Linked DNA regions of Homo sapiens. The protein of the gene in region 1 interacts with the protein of each later gene in a pairwise test. Each region holds a gene or a part of one and is shown on either strand. Other genes may lie near its edges.

Region 1 (3,813 bases):
GTAAACACTAGCCCTCTCACCCAGAGAGTAAAGTATCAGTTTCACCATCTTTGATGACAAGTTCAGCAAATAGACACTATTGACCTTATTCACATCATTTGTGGCTGAGAGCTCTCCTGCATATCTAGCCTCCAATGCTGGGAGAATGCCGTTGTCATGGCTGTGAAGACAGCCAGGAGGCGCCCGATTGGTCTATTTACTTTGCTGGCAGAGCTCACAGGCAAACAAGCACCCAGCAGCTTCTGAAGTCAGGCCAAATTCTGCAGGGATTTGAGGCTGGGTTACTGAGCAGCCTCTTTACTTCTGCTGTCCTGTTTGCCTGAACTGTGGGCTCCTTGGGACAGGCACTCAGCCTTGTCCACCACTGTATGGCCAGCCCTGGGCACAGTGCTGGGCCCAGCCTGATGCCCACCAAGTGCTTGCCAAGTGAGGAGGTGCTGAGGCCAGGAGGAAGGACACTTTATCTTCCTCTTTCTCAAGGGTGATTGGGATGGATGTCACTGAAGCAGGAGGGATGAGAATGGGAATGGGAGGTGAATCCTGGCTCTAGCTGTCTCTACTCCTACACGCCCAGGGGACCCTGGCAAGTGGGTTTCTGGTAACCTCAGTTTCCTTGTTGATGGGAAGGTCTGTCCTGCCTGGCTGGGGGGAGGGTGAGAAGGTGCATGGCAGGTGTTGAGCTCAATATCTGCACTGAGAGTCAGTGCTGAACTGCTGAGGAGGGTGGTCAGGGGTGACTGTGGAGCCTTCCTGCTGTTTCAGGGCTCAAAGCTGTGCGCTGTCCTTATGGGTCCCTCAGGGGACTCCCGAGGCCAAAGTAATAACTCATGGGGATGGGGCAGAGAACTAGCAGGTGCTGAGACCTGCGATGTGTCACATACCCCCACTGACTCTCACCTGGCTGGCCCTCAGGCTGGGTAGGACACAGCCTATAAAGGTGAAGAGAATGAGACTTGGAGAAGTGATGGCACTGGCGAGGGCTACAGCTCACAGTGACAGACCTGGGATGCCTGCCCTGGTCTCTGTGATCTCCAAGCCCTTCTGCTCTGGACACATGATCAGGCTCTGTCTCCAGGGCCCCTCACCTGCCAGATCCTCACCCCCCTTTTAAACAGTTAATTTTACCCTTAAAAAAAGTACAGTTGCCTTTCAAATTATGGAAGTAGTGCAGACTTGTTGAGAAAAACACAGAAGGGTATGCAGGATCTTATGACACAGCCTCCTTAACCATGATCCTGCTCCTCAGAGTTAGCCCCTGAGTCCTTCGGTATAGACTCTTCCGGTGCCTTCTATGAAACATAAGGATTTTAAACAATGGGATCCCCAACTTGTCAGGAACTTATTTAATATATATATAAACCAGCCTTATCCTTTTCAATGACTCCAGAGTATTCCACCATATGGCTCTACCACAGTTTACATAACCAGTTCCCCACAGATGGGCACGTTCCTATTTTTGCTCTTATGAGCAGTCCTGCAGTAAATAAGCTGGCATGGGAATCTCTGAGCATGCTGAGCAAGTACTTACACAGGACACGTTCCTAGAAGTGGGAATGCAGGGTAAAAGAAATGCACACTTGGCCAGGTGTGGTGGCTCACACCTGAAATCCCAACACTTTGGGAGGCCGAGGCGGGAGGATCACCTGAGGAGTTCGTGACTAGCCTGGCCAACACAGTGGAACCCCATCTCTACTAAAAATACAAAAATTAGCCAGGCACGGTGGTGCACGCCTGTAATTCCAGCTACTTGGGAGGCTGAGGCAGGAGAATCGCTTGAGCCCGGGAGGCAGAGGTTTCAGTGAGTTGAGATCGTGTGCCACTGCACTCCAGCCTGAGCGACAGAGCCAGGCTCTGTCTCAAAAAAAAAAAAAAAGAATCACACATTAAGAAGTGTTGGCCCACACTACCCTTTCACCCCTGGTGGTGGGAGGACCAAGTCCTCCCCACCCATCTGACAGGTGAAATGGCATTGCAACTTAAGGTGCTTTCTTTGAGTTGGTTAGACTGAAAAACCTGTCGGGATTTCAGGCCATTCGTATTTGTCTTACTGTTACCTGTTCTGATTTTCCTGCTAGGTTGCTTGTCTTGTAGAATTTTTGGGAACTTTTCATACACTACAGCTTTAACACAAAGTGATTATGTCAAGTAACCCTCTCTCCTGTTTCAATGACTGAACAAGGAAGTCTATCTCCACTTCATCCACTTATTGATAAACAGAATCTATTAAACACCACCGCCTACATAGTACCATGTGACTGGTGAGGCAACCTCTGCCCTGGACGTTTCCCGCTGTGCCCTAAATCCCACAACGAAGCTGCCTGAGAGGTCACCGCCATGCCTGCCTCACCCTACCCCTGCTCCCAGGCACCTCACCTGGCCTGCACGGGAACAGTGATGCTATTTGGGAAACAGCCCTGGTCCCAAGAAGGGGTGTGGAGGAAACTCCAGGACAGAACACTGCTCTGCAGGGGACTTCCATCTGCCTGGGCTCAGATGTGGGGATGAGGTGGGCCACGGCAGGCGGCATAGCCACAAACCCTGTGGCCGTCTCTTCTCCTTGCATTCTCCCCTGAATCCTCATGACATCCCACACTCATTCTTAGTCCCCACTGTCTTCCCTTTGCTTTCTAACCCTCCCTACCTTCTTCAGATTTAGAACAGTATGTGCTACTGGCACTGAGTGAATTATCACTCCTGGTTAGCTGTTCCTCTCTTCTGAGACAGGCTGTGTCTCCAAAGCCATCCCAGTTACCAGCCAATAGACAGGAAGTTGCTTACTCGGGGAATGGCGGACACCTTCACTTTGGCCCTAGAATCACATTTGGCCTACTTTGGTCACTCCCAGGTGATCCTGGGTGAGATGAGAAGGACTGAATGATGGCTCTATACTCCCTCCACCCAACTCTATACACTGAAGAGGAAGAACTTCTGCAAAATTCTGGGACTTGCTTTGCAGGTTCAAGGTGGTGTGGCTCCAGGATTCAGACCCATCTTAGCTGCAGACCCAAACAGGAGCCTGCGCTACCTCCACAGCCTTCACCCTGCCTTAGCTTGGACACTAACTGCCTCCTCCTGCTCCATGCAGTCACAGGGGTCCAGAGCCCATTTCTGCGGGGTGGGCTTGCTCCTCTGCCTGAGTCACCGCCTGTGGCTAGGATCTCCTGCAGCTGAAAGCAGCAGCGAGTGCAGGGTGTCTACTCCCAGCAGTATATCCTTATGACCCTGAGTTCCCTCTAAGGGGAGGAGCGAGGATGAGCTGCATGTGCAGGCCTGCAGCACTTGGGTAAGGAGAGAAGTGGTGGGAGAAAGCAAGAAGCAGAGGGATCAGGCCAGGCGCGGTGGCTCCTGCTTGTAATCCCAGCACTTTGGGAGGCTGAGGTGGGTGGATTGCTTGAGCCCAGCGGTTCGAGACCAGCCTGGCCAACATGGTGAAACCCCATCTTTACTAAAAAAATACAAAAATTAGCCGGGCGTGGTGGTGCACGCCTATAATCCCAGCTACTCGGGAGGCTGAGGCAGGAGAATCACTTGAACCCAGGAGGCAGAGGTTGCAGTGAGCTGAGACTGTGCCACTGCACTCTAGTCTGGGCAACAGAAGGAGACTTTGTCTCAAAAACCACAAAAACAAAAAAGCAGGGGGAACTGCAGCAGGGAAAGCCAGGGGCTGCATGGATTCTGGGTGCTTTTGAAGGTAAACATAACATGATGATGATGAAGATGACAGAACAGTACAGGGTACTAGAGAAAACTGTCTGCACTGCTGATAAATAAAGGGGAACCAATAAGTGAGACAGGAGAAGCTACAACTGCTTG
Region 2 (3,813 bases), on another chromosome or scaffold:
TTCTTTAACCACGAAGAGGCACTAGGCATCATCATTTGCTGGGTTTAGCTTCCTCCTGGCGACAGGTGGCCACAGGGACTATTACTACTTTGATTCTGTCTCCAAGGCCCTTTTCAGCTAAGTCTGGGTGTCAAATGTTTTTGTTGAAATTTTGCTGCTTACCAGGAGCAACAGCATCTTAACTGCAAGCCTTAAGCCTTTTTTCAATTCATCTGAAATAGTGATTTTATTTGCTTCTTTTCACCTCTGTCCTAATTGGGCCCTGTCTCCAGACAGATAGGGTGTGTCCCCACTTTCATTCTTCCAAGGCCCTTCCACTGACCGAGACACTAGATTGGAAGCTGGCAGAGAATCAAGGGCTGGCTCTAGGCGCTCAGCATTTAAATATTCAAAGTTATGACACATCATTACTTATTCAGAGCTCACTCTCTAAGTCCTCTAAGGCAGAGCCTGTTGCAGACAGTAAAACTCCTGACAGTGAGTACAAGGCACACTGAAAAGCTACTTGTAAGGCAGGAAGTCCAGTGAAGAATGAGAATGTGGAAGGAAACCTCGGGCCTGAGTTATGTGAAGCTCTCTTCTCTGAGCTGGGGAGGCACACGCAGCGTGGGGGCACACTGTGGCTTGGTGAGCAGGCCGAGCTTTGTCTCCCCACGTCCAGGCAGCACGGCATCCTGTGTCTCCTGGGTTCAAGTGATTCTCCTGCCTCAGCCTCCTGAGTAGCTGGTATTACAGGCACGTGCCACCACACCCAGCTAATTTTTGTATTTTTTAGTAGAGATGGGGTTTCACCATGTTGGCCAGGCTGGTCTTGAGCTCCTGACCTCAGGTGATCCACCCACCTCAGCTTCCCAAAGTGCTGAGATTACAGGGGTGGGCCACCACGCCCAGCCTAAAGTATTTTAAATTATTCTGTTTCTGTTTCTTGAATTGTGGATCCTTCAGGTGGATCCACAGCCAGTCAGTGTATTGGACCTGCTGACATGCCTTCATGAATTGTTTTTCATGCAATTTATAAGCTTTTCATTAGCTCTTCCTTGGAGGTTGTGGGGGCATCCCTGCAGAGCAGTTTTATGTTTGCCGTTGTCGAGAATCTCCAGGTTCACCGTGGGACTAGTTTTTCTGTTAATTTTTCAAATGGAGATGTCTTCACCATAAAAGCAGTGTATTCCAATTGCTCAGGCCTGGAGTTACAGTTTTTATGGGTAATTCATCTCATTCATGGTAGATGGTCAGCTTCCGTGCTGCTTTCCTAGACCAGTAGCTGGAGTTTTTCTGTTTCTGGTTTTAGTAGCACAGCAGCTCATTGTGCTGTTCGGCTTTATGCAGACAGCCCTATTCCAGTGTTCAGCCCTCTGCAGGACTGAGGCTCAGCATCTATTCCTGGTAGACCCTGCTCCAAGCCTGTAGGGCCTCAGTCAAGGCCTGACCCATTGCGGGGGTCCTTGGCATGAGTGCCTGCCCATTTCCTACCTTTTTTTTTTGAGACCGAGTCTTGCTCTGTTACTCAGGCTGGAGTGCAGTGGCGGGATCTCAGCTCACTGCAACCTCCACCTCCTGGGTTCAAGTGATTATCCTGACTCAGCCTCCTGAGTAGCTGGGATTACAGGTGCCCACCACCATGCCCAGCTAATTTTTGTATTTTTAGTAGAGATGGCGTTTCACCACGTTGGCCAGGCTGGTCTTGAACTCCTGACCTCAGGTGATCTGCCTGCCTCAGCCTCCTAAAGTGCTGAGATTACAGGCGTGAGCCACTGCACCCAGCCCCCACCTATTCTTTTAAGTCCATTCATTTGTTTTTTGGTGTTTTCTTTTTTTTTTTTTTTTTTTTTTTTTTTGCCAAAACCAAATACTTCTGAAAGGTCCATTCATTTATTGAATGGTTTCCTCTTCGTTTCTGGGATTTACTTTCTAAGCTTCCAGCCTAGGCTATATATTAAAAAATTTTAAATTACATTTTATCCAGCAGTTGTATATGTTTAGAGTTAGAAGAAGCAGATAAGATGTTTTCATTCCTGTTCCATGACATGGAGAGCCTTTCCATGTCAGCTTGATCCATGATATTCTCCTGAGGCATTAGATTGTTTTCTGGATTTGCCTAGGTCTGGTGTCTTCAAATTGGATTCACTTTTTATACATACAGACACTCCCTTGGCTCTTTAACCATATATATTTTATTTTTTATCTCCCTTGTTAATAATCCTTAATTTAGTAACTCTGTATGCATGGCGCTTATTTGGGGTCTCACAGCACAGACACATGAGAGGGGTAGGATAGTCTCCTGGCATGACCCCAGAACGTCCGGATCTTCAGGCCACTCAGACAGCTGCTCTGGGGTTAAGTCAGATAACTCATCACAGGTGACATCCTATTCCAGTGTCAGTGGAGACTCTCCTAGCGTCTGTGTGACAAAGCTCTTTTCCTAAGTGACTCTGACTTGGTTATAGTAAATTCTCTACAATGAAGGCTTCTCTCTGGCAAACACATCTTCTAATTCCTAACTACTTAACAGTCATTCTTTGCAGTAAAAATGTATCTGCTCATTGCTGTTTGCGGGAGTGAAAGGGAGGAGGTAAAACATGCTGAGCTGTAGCTGAGTTTGTCACAGCTTTCCTGGTTAAACAGCAATCATTATTCAGTTTCTTTTCTCCCTGTCCGCAACCAACCGGACCAAGTGTAAAAAAACCACACACCTGAAGTCCTAAATCATGGGCCAGAGCCACATAGGCCAGGGCAGGATCTTGGAGGAAGAGAGAGGGGGAGAGTTTGGATAGACTTACTTCCTTCTGGGCCTATGATCCACTTGCCAAATAGCTACAGATGGGACCTCAGTTCCTTCTTCCAGCTGGGAATGTAATTTCCATGATTGTTCTTTTCATGACAAAATGAGGAGGTAATGGAAAGTTTGGGTGGCCCGAGGCTGAGGTTAAAAGAGAGTTCCACCTGTCCAAGTACAAGGTGTTCATGAAGACTTCGGGAAAGGAGAAGGGAGAAACACAAAGGAAAGCCAGGCAGGGAGATCCCATCGCTGCCGCCGGCCCCGAGAGGGAGAGCGCGACTATCACAGGAGTGGGGCTGATTGATTCTGTGCAGGGTGGGCCTGTTGCTGGGGACTCTGTGCTGTGCTGTTGTGACTGTGTGGATGGAGAAGGGACTGTAGCCCTGAGAGGGAATGGAATAGCCCCTTAGAGAACCAAAGATTGCCCCTTTACAGAAGGGAGCCTGCCCAGACCTGCCCTGGTGAGTCTGCTTTTTGACAGCATTTAAGGCAGGGTCCTCCTAGCTGTTGCTAAGGCTGTTTTCTTTCCCATGTATGCAGCTTGAATTAGATTATAAAGCCTTTCCCTCAGGCCTGTTAGTGCTCGTTTTCCATCATTTATCCTGAAAGAGCGACTTCCTTAACATGGCTGGAGACCCTGCACAGTCTGGCCCAGCCTGCCTCCCAGGCTCCTCCTCGCCCATCCTCACCCGTTACTCTGCACCACAGCCCCCCGACCTCCCTCTGTCCTTGGGCTCTGTGCTCCCTTCTGCCACAGGACTCTTGCACATGCTCTTCTCTGGCTGGGACACTCTCCCCTCTTCCCTTTACTTTGTGAACCCATTGGTAAAACAATATAAGCTCTCTCTTCCAACTTTATTAGTTCTAGATCAAGCTGAAACTCTTAGAGCTGTAATGGAAAGTAACTCCCTTCAGGAATAGGGCCACTTGGAGTCTCCACAGGAGACTGAAAAGGAGATCACCCCATATTTCAGGAGAAAGGCTTGGTATTAACCTATTATTGATGTGTAATACTTCCTTCTTTTGTAATTTCC

The links.
Region 2: the proteins of PPARD (region 1) and ITGB5 interact in a two-hybrid assay, tested with the Homo sapiens proteins (one study listed by BioGRID).

The regions. Positions count from the first base shown.
Region 1 is NC_000006.12:35,411,745-35,415,557, reverse strand, and holds part of PPARD (peroxisome proliferator-activated receptor delta), read right to left. Parts: intron 1-3,813. UniProt on the Homo sapiens protein: Ligand-activated transcription factor key mediator of energy metabolism in adipose tissues. Receptor that binds peroxisome proliferators such as hypolipidemic drugs and fatty acids.
Region 2 is NC_000003.12:124,842,231-124,846,043, reverse strand, and holds part of ITGB5 (integrin beta-5 isoform a precursor), read left to right. Parts: intron 1-3,813.